Linked DNA regions of Homo sapiens. The protein of the gene in region 1 interacts with the protein of each later gene in a biochemical or structural test. Each region holds a gene or a part of one and is shown on either strand. Other genes may lie near its edges.

Evidence for each region. Proteins that work in one complex are often made in the same cells at the same time.
Region 2: the proteins of FGFR4 (region 1) and TGFBR3 form a complex in vitro, tested with the Homo sapiens proteins (one large-scale study listed by IntAct).

The regions. Positions count from the first base shown.
Region 1 is NC_000005.10:177,093,415-177,096,914, forward strand, and holds part of FGFR4 (fibroblast growth factor receptor 4 isoform 1 precursor), read left to right. Parts: coding exon 1-137; intron 138-239; coding exon 240-361; intron 362-1,915; coding exon 1,916-2,026; intron 2,027-2,118; coding exon 2,119-2,309; intron 2,310-2,642; coding exon 2,643-2,765; intron 2,766-2,872; coding exon 2,873-2,943; intron 2,944-3,189; coding exon 3,190-3,327; intron 3,328-3,500. UniProt on the Homo sapiens protein: Tyrosine-protein kinase that acts as a cell-surface receptor for fibroblast growth factors and plays a role in the regulation of cell proliferation, differentiation and migration, and in regulation of lipid metabolism, bile acid biosynthesis, glucose uptake, vitamin D metabolism and phosphate homeostasis.
Region 2 is NC_000001.11:91,708,152-91,711,651, forward strand, and holds part of TGFBR3 (transforming growth factor beta receptor type 3 isoform a precursor), read right to left. Parts: intron 633-3,500; coding exon 512-632; intron 1-511. UniProt on the Homo sapiens protein: Cell surface receptor that regulates diverse cellular processes including cell proliferation, differentiation, migration, and apoptosis.

The DNA of each region.
Region 1 (3,500 bases):
GAGTCAGGCTCTTCCGGCAAGTCAAGCTCATCCCTGGTACGAGGCGTGCGTCTCTCCTCCAGCGGCCCCGCCTTGCTCGCCGGCCTCGTGAGTCTAGATCTACCTCTCGACCCACTATGGGAGTTCCCCCGGGACAGGTGCGCTGAGCTGTGTGGGGGCAGGGACGCGGGCGCCGGGTTGCAGCCCGCCCTCCGCAGGAGTGACTCGGAGGTCTGAGGCTGGACTTTCTCCATCTCCAGGCTGGTGCTTGGGAAGCCCCTAGGCGAGGGCTGCTTTGGCCAGGTAGTACGTGCAGAGGCCTTTGGCATGGACCCTGCCCGGCCTGACCAAGCCAGCACTGTGGCCGTCAAGATGCTCAAAGGTGAGTGTGGCCCGGTGTGGTGGCTCACACCTGTAACGCCAGCACTTTAGGAGGCTGAGGGTGGGAGGATCGCTTGAATCCAGGAATTCGAGGCCAGCCTGGGCAACATGGCAAGACTTCATCTCTACAAAAAAAAAATAAGAAAATTAGTTGGGTGTGGTGGTGTGTGCCTTTAGTCTCAGTTACTAGGGAGGCTGAGGCAGGAGGATCCCTTGAATCCAGGAGTTGGAGGTTGCAGGGAGCCATGATCACGCCACTGTATTCCAGCCTGGGCAACACAGTGAGACCCTATCTGAAAAAATAAATAAATAAATAAAAATAAAAGGTGAACGTGGCAGCCTGGAGGAGGTGCTATGGCATTGGGACTAATAGAAGGGGCTCACGGTGCCACCAGGTGAGCCCTGGAGCTGGGAGAGGCTGTGGGATCCCACCCTTAAACCTGCAATTCACCTCTGCTCCTGACCCTGGCAAGTGACTTCTGAGCCTCAGTTTTCCCTTGTGTCATATGGGGTAGATAACAGTCCCTACTCCCAGCCCAAGGATTGTGGAAAGTGCCTGGCTCATAGTCAGGGCTCAATAAATCTTCACCACTGGGGTGATGATGATGAGAAGAATTTGGTGTGACAGGCTTGATATCCTGTGTCAGCATTAGTCTGTGTCAGCTTTGACTTCACATCTCCTTGTCAGCCTCACAGGCCCTCTACCTCCTTCCTTATGGTTCCCCCCAGACACACCCTCAGCCTCCCTTGGACCCTCCCTAGGTCTGCCCCCCACGTCCACTGCTGTAGGAGGACAGCCCTTCTGCTTGCACCCAGGCCCAGCCCCGGGGTGCTCTTGCTGGGCACTCCTGCACCCCACCCATCAGGGCCTCTCCTTGCAGTTCCCCAGCCCCCTCTGCAAGAATGGCCTCCACTGCTCTTCTGCTCCTCCCCTCCTCTCTACACAGCTGGGGCCACCTGGTGCTCCCTGGGAGGCAGGGATTGAGAAATGCACATTGTGTCATTGGCCCAGGGCCACAGGTCAGCCCCAGGGGCTCAGCCAGAGAAGCCAAAGCAGCCTTCTTCCCAAGCTCCCCGGCTGCACCCGGCCTGCCGCCAGCTCCCTGAATTCCCAGGCCAGTTGGAAGCCAGGCCCTGGTCAAACAGACCCCAGGGCGCCAGCCTGCTTTCCGCACCCAGAAGCTCTGACCCCATGCGGGGACTACCGCTGACCCCTCCAGCGGCAGCTTCCTTCCTTCCTTCCTGCTCCGAGCTCTTCCCCTCTCTCCTGTGTCCTGGGCCTGCCCGCTGGAAGGCCTGCCTCTTAGATCCTTGATACAGTTGCATCCTTGCAACTGCTGTGACAGGCAGGGTGTGACCCACTGCTCTGTTTCCCACAAGACGAACCTGAGGTTCAGAGACGCTAGGAGACTTTTTCAAGGCCACACAGCCTAGCAAGGATTCAGCCCTAGACCTACGTAGCCCTGGTCCAGTGCTGCTTGTCCTGCACCTGCCTCTGCATGCTCCCTCGTGCAGTTGGAGGGCAGCCTCTTCACCCCGTCTGCTGCCCTTACAGACAACGCCTCTGACAAGGACCTGGCCGACCTGGTCTCGGAGATGGAGGTGATGAAGCTGATCGGCCGACACAAGAACATCATCAACCTGCTTGGTGTCTGCACCCAGGAAGGTGGGGCCGAGGCGGGGCTGGCTGCACGGGCCGTTAGGGTGCAGAGCCAAAGCTTTGGCAGCCTCTCCACGCTCCCTCCACTCCCTCTGCAGGGCCCCTGTACGTGATCGTGGAGTGCGCCGCCAAGGGAAACCTGCGGGAGTTCCTGCGGGCCCGGCGCCCCCCAGGCCCCGACCTCAGCCCCGACGGTCCTCGGAGCAGTGAGGGGCCGCTCTCCTTCCCAGTCCTGGTCTCCTGCGCCTACCAGGTGGCCCGAGGCATGCAGTATCTGGAGTCCCGGAAGGTACAGGCGCTAGGGCTCTGAGCCCCTCTCAGTCTCTCCAGCTCCACTCTCAGGCCTGTGGCATTCAATGTCCCGACTTCTCCCTCTCTGCTCTTTTTCATGACCCCACCTCAGTGTCCCCAGGCATTCACGCTTTCCTGCATTCCCCACTCGTTCCTCACCCTTCCCCAGAGGGGAGAGGGGACGCAGGAGAAGGCACTCCCCGTTTCTAAACCTTGACCTCCTCCTCTGTAAAGTGGGTGGAGGGCCCCTGCCCCCGGGCCTGCTGGGGGGTGGTGTGTGCTCAACTCCAGGCCAGGTGTCCTGAGGCACCCAAGCCCCCGCTCCCTGCAGTGTATCCACCGGGACCTGGCTGCCCGCAATGTGCTGGTGACTGAGGACAATGTGATGAAGATTGCTGACTTTGGGCTGGCCCGCGGCGTCCACCACATTGACTACTATAAGAAAACCAGCAACGTGAGGGAGATGGGGCAGAACTGGATGGGGGTGGAGGGGCACTGGGCCCGGGGTGGCAGGCACGAGGACCTGTGGGACTCTGCACTGAGGCCCTCTCTCCCCTCCAGGGCCGCCTGCCTGTGAAGTGGATGGCGCCCGAGGCCTTGTTTGACCGGGTGTACACACACCAGAGTGACGTGTGAGTCCTGCCGGCGGTCACTGTCCTACCCCACAAAAAGGGCAAGGCACTGCCCAAAGTCACGTGGCCCCAGGAGTCATGCGCTCGAGGGCTCCTTCAGATTTGGTCTGGGACCCGAGTGGGCCCAGACTCCAGGAGGAGCCCATTCCCCAACAGCTGTGGTGGGTCATGTCTGTGGGGTCCCCCGTCCTAGCCCCGGTCGTCGGGAGGGCGCTGAGCCACACTGAGCCCTGGCCCTACCTCCAGGTGGTCTTTTGGGATCCTGCTATGGGAGATCTTCACCCTCGGGGGCTCCCCGTATCCTGGCATCCCGGTGGAGGAGCTGTTCTCGCTGCTGCGGGAGGGACATCGGATGGACCGACCCCCACACTGCCCCCCAGAGCTGTGAGGCCTCACCCTGCCCTCGACCCCACTTTCCAGTCCTCCTCCTCCTCTGCCCTGACCATGGCCTCAGGGTGTGTCCCGGCCAGAAGGACAACACTAACAACAACTCCTCGTCCTCCTCCTCCTCTTCCTCTTCCTCCTCCTCCTCTTCCTCCTCCTCCTCTTCCTCCTCC
Region 2 (3,500 bases), on another chromosome or scaffold:
TGAAAACTGAATTTTAAGATGCATTTGGGCAGTGGTTCTCATCTGTTACACCTAAGATGAATAATGTTCACATATTCTCAAAGGCATTTGCAATTTTGATAAAGCAATACAATAGGTTATAGCCAGCATAAACTTTAGCAGTAGATCACAGAAAGATGAACTGTGGATTGTGTGCAATTCCCGGGACATGGGACTAACTAGAACCCTTTTTTGCATACTCAAGGAAGCATATTTGAATGCAAGGGAGAGTGACCTTATGACAGGAACAACCTAGACCTGATTCTTTTTACAGAGGAAATCATTTTCAAATAGATTACTTACAACTAAGCCATAATGGCTGTAAGAGAACCAGCTAAAGAAAAGACTCTTCGGGCAAAAAATGGTCTTCTAAAGTAACTAACTGGCCCTTTAGTTATCTTGTGAATAAAGCTGGACTTTGATTTACACTATTGGGTCTTCTTAACAAGCAGAGCTCAGGCCCCATGCTCTGATCGTGCCTCCCAAAGCACACCTTTAGATTCTGCTTCATGGTGGATCACAGCAAGGGGCTTAGTGAACGTCTTCTTATTCTGCATCATGGCCCAGATTATCGAGGCGTCCAGCGAGGTGCAGGCTTCGTCAGGAGGCACACACTGCAGACAGGCAGAACAAAGCACAGAATCAGGGGCCACTCAAAAGTGCCTTCACCAGCTCTACCTGCACAGCTGTCCTGTGGCCTTTTATCAGACAGCACACAGCTGTTCACTACAGAAAAGCAAGAAGGTGGGTGTTTTTCAGAGAACACCAAATAACCTGGGAGATATGACAGCAGGCCCAGTGGATTTTTGGTTGTACCTGAAGATGCAAATATCACTGGATAGCTTCTCAATATTGTCCTCCCCCTCCCCTTCTTCTCACAAAACTAAACATTTTAGTGTTAGTTTGAAAAACAGAAAAACTATATGCCTAGTGTTGGTCCTCACCAAGCTGGGCTTCATATACACGGTTCATGTTTGTGATTGGTGATTGTGGGAAATTTCCCATAAAGACGCTCCTCAACTTATGATGAGGTTACATCTTGACAAACCCACTGTAAACTGAAAATATCACTAAGTTGAAAATGTGTTTAATACACCTAAAGTACCGAACAACACAGCTTAGTCCAGCCTACTTTAAACATGCTCAGAACACTTACGTTAACCTACAGCTGGAAAAATCATGTAACACAAAGCTTATTTCATAACAAAGTGTTGAATAGCTCACATAATTTATTGAATACTTAGATTGAAAAACAGAATGGTTGTATGGGGACTGTCTATACTGCATTATGAAGGTGACAGATTTTACATTTTTCTCCAATAAGATAATCATGTTGCTGAGTTTGTTTCATTTTTAATCCTGGTATAGGCTCATGTAAAACTAAACTTTCCAGGGTCATCTGCTTTTAATGTTTCAAAATGCAGATCCTGGGGGCTGTGCCCAGGTTGTGGAGGCCATGAGATTAGCCGCTTCAAACCTATTAATGAGCATGCTCAGGCCCACTACATCTGTTTTGAAAAAATATGATCACACTCCGCACTTTTTCTTTAAAATAACTTTGTTTTCTTGTCTATATTTATCAATAGGTATAGTTCTTTTTTATTTTTCTTGAGACAGGGTCTTGCTGTGTTACCCAGGCTGGAGTACAGTGGTACAATCATGGCTCACTGCAGCCTTGGCCTCATGGGCTCAAGTCATACTCCTGCCTCAGCCTCCCCAGTAGCTGGGACTACAGGTGTGCACCACTACACCCAGCTAATATATATATAGTAGTGACAGGGGTCTCACTATGCTGACCAGGCTGGTCTCGAACTCCCAGCAAGCTGCCAAGCTCAGCCTCCCAAAGTGCTAGGATGACAGGCATGAGCCCACGCCCAGCCTAATAGGTATAACTCTAAAGTAAATGACAGCTTCTATGGTAAGAAGACATATTAATACAGCCATCATTTTAAGTCTATAGCAGGCATCCCAAAAAGCTAATCAAGTTCCATCTTTTCCAAACACAAAAGAGCAAAGACTTTAGGCCTTGCTGTCATTGCTGCTCTGAGCAACATGCCAGTCAGACACTTCTTATAAGACAACCCTCACTGCCCTACTCTTACCCCCTCAAAAAGAGAAAAGCCTTTAACAAGAGCCCTCTTGTAAAGAAAAACAACAAATTTTCTGTGGAGAGGCATGATGACTGAAAAGAGTTGCATTTTGCTTTCCTGTTTTAGTTTACTGTTACTTTCCTATTGAGCTCTTCAGTTAAGCAAGAGTCTATGATTCCGCATTTAACTCAGTGGAGTGTGACCCTGGGCAAGACACTCTGCTCTCCGGGTCTCGGTTTCATCAGCAAAGGGCAGGGTTGGTCTCAACAATCTCTGAGATCTCTTCCTAGAAGATTCTTTGGCGCTCTCTATTGTCACAGAAAGCACTCAGAAAATAATAGAAATGTGAAAATATTACCTATAAGCAGCAAACAGAAAGACAGTGGTAACAGCTCATCCAAGCCTCTGCCAGATAAAGGGCTGTCATTGTACATACTGTCCTATTTGCTCCTCTACCCAGGAGGGAAGCCAGGTATGATTATAACAGTATATGAGGAAATACAGGCTCTAAGGGGTCCAGAGACTGGCTTAAAGTCCCATTGGTGGCAGCAGAGCTTCCTTCTCAGTCCCAGGCTCTTTCCATGTTATCTTACCTTGGGGGTAAAGGGCGACTTGAGGTTTAGGGTTATATCCCATCATGTCATCCCCTGAGGCTTAGAACTCTCTTTACGATTAATTTTCCCAGATTAACACACATGAAGCTGGGCTGTTCCAGGCCAGGTCAGAGAGAAGTAACAGCCAAAGCCACAGCAAAGATCCCTGGTAACTGCTAGGTCTCCCCTCCAAGACCTCTAACCCTTAAACGTTACCCTTCTGCCCACAGGAAGCAGCTGGTCCCACAGCCACACATGAAGCTCCTCATGGCTCTCTACCACTGTCCACTAAGCCCCAACCCTGATGGTGAATGCCTACAAGGCTAAGGCATCACCGCCGCAAAAGCAAACCTAGGAATATAGTCTAAATCACTGTATATGTGCTCCCCAATGATTATGATCATATCTGCTCTATTTTCGTATGCAAACAAAATTCTCTTGGGTGTTATCAGAGAAAAGGATGCCCAGGGGACTATAATGATGCAAGGAATTCAGATCAATTGTAATCTATTTGGAAATGGTGGTTTTTCCTCCTACCTCCATACCTAAGACTTAAAATCTGTGAGTTAAATGAGAAAATTCCATACATACATTATTAATAACACTGCTTGATTCTTAGCCTTTTAGACATTGATATATGACTGCGAAAGGACTGGAAATCAGTTTACTCTGTGTGAGATAGCCACAGAATAAATGCACATATGAAATTATACATAATTATGGCAGATCACAGAAACAAAACTATGGCAGAAGATACCTTTCATATACAAGACCAACCTAGTGGGTATCATAGTTAACC